2 separate regions of the Homo sapiens genome follow, and region 2 is linked to region 1. The links come from fine-mapping of genetic effects on gene expression. Tissue or cell type: whole blood. Region 1 holds a variant in brackets; the other region holds the start of a gene. All regions are shown on one strand. Distances are between the middles of the regions.

Region 1 (2,754 bases):
TTCATGAAAGCAAAACAAAGCGCCCGGCGCGGTGGCTCACGCCTGTAATCCCAACACTTTGGGAGCCCAAGGCGGACGGATCACAAGGTTAGGAGTTCGAGACTAGCCTGGTCAACATGGCGAAACCCCATCTCTACTAAAAATACAAAAATTAGCAAGGCTTGGTGGCATGCACCTGTAATCCCAGCTACTCGGGAGTCTCAGGCAGGAGAATCACTTGAACCTGGGAGACAGAGGTTGTGGTGAGCCGAGATCACGCCACTGCACTCCAGCCTGGTGGCAGAGCGAGACTCCATCTCAAAAAAAAAAAAAAAAAACCCACAAAGCAAAATTTTCATGACCAGGAACTCCAGGAAATCTAAGTATAAGAATCACCAAATAAGTAGTAAACAATAATAAATGATAAGCAAATCAGCTGCCTAGGAAGAATTATGGAGGTGAGAATGTTTCAACATGAAAGATGAGTGAAGATACAAAAATAAACATAAAATACAATATAATAAGCCTAGCCTTTTCTCCTTGCTTTGTTTAATTTGATGATTTCCTAACCTCACTCATTTGACTATCACCTTTGTGGGTTTTTTCCACATCTGAATTCCACCTATGTTATTAATTTACTTAACATTCTTCTCTATATTGACTCATTTTTTTTTTACTTAAATTATTTTGAGGCTGGGCACGGTGGTTCATGCCTGTAATCCCAGCACTTTGGGAGGCTGAGGTGGGAGGATTGCTTGAATCCAGTTGTTGGAGACCAGCCTGGGCAACATAGTGAGACCCTGTCTCTACAAAAAATAAACAAAATTAGCCAGGCATGGTGGTGCATGCCTGTAGTCCCAGCTACTTGGGAGGCTGAGATGGGAGGATTGTTTGAGCCCAGGAAGTTGAGGCTGCAGTGAGGCATGATGGTGCCACTGCACTCCAGCTTGGGTGACAGAGAGAGACCTTGCCTCAAAAAAATAAAATAAAATAAAAAATAAGTTTAAAAAATTATTTTGAAAGGAACCTGCGTATTTTAAAGGGAACCTTCATATTTTGACTATAGATGGAAAATCAATAACATTTGCTATATAGAAATAAATCCAGTAACAACCAAACATTGTTATTCAACTCTAGCTAGGCTCTGTGGTCTGTCATACACTCTAAACCTAAGGCCAGCACTTTCTGTCTTAAAGAAATTTACAAGTGTCAGAGAGAGATACATTAAAGACATATCGGCACTCAGCGAGGTGCGGTGGCTCATGCCTGTAATCCCAGTACTTTGGGAGGCCGAGGCCGGTGGATCACTTGAGGTCAGGAGTTCGAGACCAGCCTGTCCAAAATGGTGAAACCCCATCTCTACCAAAAATACAAAAATTAGCTGGGCTTGGTGGCACACACACCTGTAATCCCAGCTACTCGGGAGGCAGAGGCAGGAAAATCACTTGAACCCGGGAAGGTGGAGGTTGTAGTGAGCCGAGATTGCACCACTGCACTCCAGCCTGGACAACAGAGCGAGACTCAGTCTCAAAAAAAAAAAAAAAAAAAAAAAAAAAAGACACATTGGCACCAAAGTGAGACTTTCTACTTGACTTAATTAGAAGAATTGAAAGTGTGACCCACTTCTAGTAGTTAATCCTATGGCTATTCTCCACTACAGAATGGCAGCTCCATGATGCAGGGACTC[C/T]ATCTATTGTGTTCACTGCTCTGCCTCTGGTGCCTAGACCTGACCTGGTGCATAGTAGGTGTTCGGAAAATATTTGTGGAACGCATGGATTAACTAATATGCAAAATGAAATACATATAAGGATATTTATTGCAACAATTCTTATAATGGTTGGAAATGGTTGGAAACAAGTCTATCAACAGTGAACTGGGTAAATTATATACCAGTCATACAGTTGAATAGCATGAGTCTTTATAAAAGAAGGAGGCAGTTCTATATGTATGATGTGGAACCCACTGATAAGTGAGATAGGCAAGGTACAGGGCAGTTGTGGATAGTATGCTTCCATTAACTTTTTAGAAAGAGGCTATAGGAATGTATCGTTTGCACATGCTGAAGTACATCTGGAAAAATACACAAGGAACTGGTAAGAATGATTGCTTCGTCTACTGCCATACCACCCTGAACACGCCCGATCTCATCTGATCTTGGAAGCTAAGCAGGGTCAGGCCTGGTTGGTACCTGGATGGGAGAATGGTTGCTTCAAAAGAGCCTGGGGGCCAAGCACAGTGGCTCATGCCTGTAATCCCAGCACTCTGGGAGGCCGAGATGGGCGGATCACCAGAAGTCAGGAGTTCAAGACCAGCATGGCCAACACGGTGAAACCCCATCTCTACTAAAAATACAAAAATTAGCTGGGCCTGGTGGTGGATGCCTGTAATCTCAGCTACTTGGGAGGCTGAGGCAGGAGAAGCACTTGAACCCGGGAGGCAGAGGTTGCAGTGAGCCAAGACTGAGCCACTGCACTCCAGCCTGGGCAACAGAGCAAGACTCCATCTCAAAAAAAAAAAAAAAAGAAAAGAAAAGAAAAGAAAAAGAAAAAAAGAGCCTGGGGCCAGAGGTGGGAGAAGCATGCTCTTTTGGAATTTGTACAAACCGCATGCATCAATTATTCAAGAAATAGACAAATCTAAAAAAGAATTAGAGAATAACTAGCTCAGCATGAGATCCAATGTTTCTTAGAGCTGTGGGCCACCACACATCATCTAGTGCACCCCTCGGGAACCACATGCCTCCCTTTGGGGAACTGTGATTTATAGTAAAGCTCT
Region 2 (2,754 bases), 110 kb after region 1:
GGATCCCTCGCCACCCCATAGCTCCTCCAAACTCCCCCCAGCCTTCTCTTGGGAGAGGACAGAAGCCAACATTTTCAGGAACTGTTAGGAGGTGACCCTCTGGAGCCATGCTGAGGATCTAGCACGTATGGCCTAATGACCAGCCAGGCGAGGGGAAATGATGTCAAGGAGATGGAGGGCCACCAACTGAGCCAGAACCCTCTGCGGCCTGTGTCTCCGTTGAGCCCCCACCCTCAGACCTGCAGGGACTGGGAAATGCATCTGGGAGAAGGCACAGCCTCATTTTGCCTGTCACCCAGCGTCCAGCAAGGGAAGGCTGACAGCAGGCAGGCCACCAGGCAATTAGTTAGAGGAGGGAGCCAGGGCCAGGGCGTCGGGGGTGGGGAGAGTGAGAGTGAGCAGCTCTTCCTCTCCCTACTTCTGCCTTATGCAGGGTCTTGGAGACCCCTGAGTCTGCTCTGGAGCCCCCACCCCACTGAACATGTTGACTGTTTCCAGGCTCGGCCTGAGCTGCTGGTTCCCTCCCAGAGACCTATTCCCCAGCGACCCCGCTCCAATTCCCCAGGTAGGCACAGAGGGGGGTGGTTCCAGATTTTGCTCCACCCCTAGCCTGGGCGACCCACCCGTCCTGACCCCACCCTCCCTCATCTTACTCCCTTCAGTGGCTTGGAAAGGATGCCCCAAGATAAAGACCCACAGGCACCCTGGCTCTGACATATGGCGGGGTAGAAACACAGATACCTCCTGGCCATGATCCGACAACCCCATTCCCCGCAGCCCAGGCGCCCAACAAATCAGGACCCAACACCTCCAGCAGGTCTCCCGCTCCCGGGAGGTTGTAACCCTTTCATCTTTGACTCCAGACACAGAAAGGCAGATGCCCCAGACCCGCGCCCGGTGGCTGGGCCTGCGTGCAGTGGGGAAGGGGGCGACCCGGGACCCCTGTGCGTGCCCCGCTCCCAACTTCTTCACAGGACATACTTGTTTAGACCTTAAGACCCAGCTGGGGTGGAGGCGTCTTAGGGAGGGAGACCGGGCGATAACTGAAGAAAGTTTTGGGGGGAGAGTGCTAAGTCACTCTGAAAAAAAGGCCACTGTCGCTCCCACCTCCTGGAGGGGGCAGCTGCCGGACCGGGGATCTCCAAGCGGCACCTGAGTCCCCGGGGGCGGGGACGCGCGCCCAGCCCCTGCCGCGCCCCTGCCGCCCCCCGCCCGCGCCCGACCCGCCTCCGGGTCGCACTCACCAGGGCGCGGTTGAACCTCTCCTCCAGCTCTCCGGCCGCGGGCATCGGCTGCTTGGGAGGCGCGGGCTGCTTGGGGGGCGGCGCGGCGGGGCCCGCGGGCTGCTCGGCGCTGCCGGCCGCGTTGCCCATGGTGGTCCCCACCCAGCCGGCCAGGCGCCTCCAGCCTCGGAAATCCAGCTTTCCGGGGGACGGGGACGAGGCTCCCGGCCCGGGCGGGGGCGAGGGGGCAGCGGCTGGCGGTGGCGGCGGGGGTCTCGGCAGCGGGGGGCGCTCGGCTCAGCGGCGCGCAGGGGCCGGAGCGCGGCGTCCCATCGGGGCGGCCCCGTCCGTGGGACCGGGCGGCGAGCTGCAGGGTTGGGGGAGGAAGTCAGGCTGCAGGCCGCCGGGGCCAGAGGGCTGGGCCGGGGGCAGGAAGCTGCGGCGCTGGCTCCCCCCTCGGCGATTTTCGAACTTCTGCTGTCGCTCCCCGTGCGCGCAAACCGCAGTTCGCCGCCGCCGCCGCCGGGCACCCAGCCCCAGGGGGGCGGGCTGGAGGGAGGGGGCGGGCGCTGGCCGGGGGACCCCCGCAACCATGGCGGGCGGGGAGTGGGCTGCCGAGCCGCTTCACCTGCCGCAGAGGGGGCGGCCGGCGCCGCTTCACCTGCCGGAGCGGGAGGCCACCGAGGCGAGGCCGAGGCGGCGGCGCGCTCGGCGGCGCCTCCGGGTCCTAGAACCGCATCCTCCCGCTCGCCTCGGGCGAGGGATTGGCCGGGTCTGGGTGAAGGGGATCACGGCCTGGGGATTGGAGGGGCACATCTTCTCCGCACCGAGGATCTCAGCGACTGCGAGCACGGCTCGGAGACCCACGGTGGTGCAGCGTTGGGGCGCCAGGGCTGCGTTCCCGTCTCGCGTCCCGGACTGAGAAGGTGGGAACCCCCTTCCAGGCCCCCCACCTTTTATTTCTCTCCTCCCCTGCTTAGCCCAGAGACGAGCTGAGGACGAGGGGGAGCCATCTCCAAACAGGAACTCCTAAACAGGGTGGGGGGCGCGGACGCAGGCCAGTGGAGACCCCCGCCACCTGTCCCACCTCGACCAACCGTGCGCCTGTGCAGGGCACCCCTACAGGTTTTAGAATGGGGGCACCTATGGAATATGGCAGGCTGCGAGAAGCTGGGCCCGCCAAGGTGGTCCCAAGGAGGAGTGGGGGGTTGCGGAAAGGAGGATGAGAGCCAGCCACAAGGCTGGAAAAGGAGTGGGCACCGCAGAGGAGGGAAAAAGAATCTTGACACTGTCACCGCCAGGGATCTAGGGGGGCCTCTTACCTTGGAGAATAACAATCTCTGATGTCTGCTAATTACAGAAATACTTTCAGAGCTCTTTCATTCATCCTGACAATGGCCAGAGAAGGTAGGTATTGGTAGCCTTATTTTAGAGATGGGGAAACTGAGGCTGAGAGTAGGTAAGTAAGCTGTCCAAGGGCACTCAGCTAACAAAGGACAGAAGCAAGCCTCCTCACTGTCTACCTCCAAAA

The links. PIP is the estimated chance that this variant, and not a neighbour inherited with it, causes the effect.
Region 2: FMNL1-DT starts here. The variant in region 1 is fine-mapped to the expression of FMNL1-DT in whole blood (TOPMed, PIP 0.98).

The regions. Positions count from the first base shown.
Region 1 is chr17:45,326,833-45,329,586 of GRCh38, reverse strand. It overlaps the pseudogene RNA5SP443. Among named protein-coding and RNA genes, the nearest start is that of MAP3K14, 11 kb to the right of the region's middle. The variant C/T (reference allele first, on the strand shown) is at 1,667.
Region 2 is chr17:45,220,744-45,223,497 of GRCh38, reverse strand. FMNL1-DT (FMNL1 divergent transcript) reads left to right here and starts at 1,733. Exons shown (of 3, transcript NR_147507.1): 1 at 1,733-2,149. FMNL1 (formin like 1) reads right to left here and starts at 1,613. Exons shown (of 27, transcript NM_005892.4): 1 at 1,245-1,613. The coding sequence starts at 1,373. RefSeq lists enhancers at 74-574, 575-1,075 and silencers at 922-1,216, 1,139-1,248, 1,529-1,578, 1,589-2,038.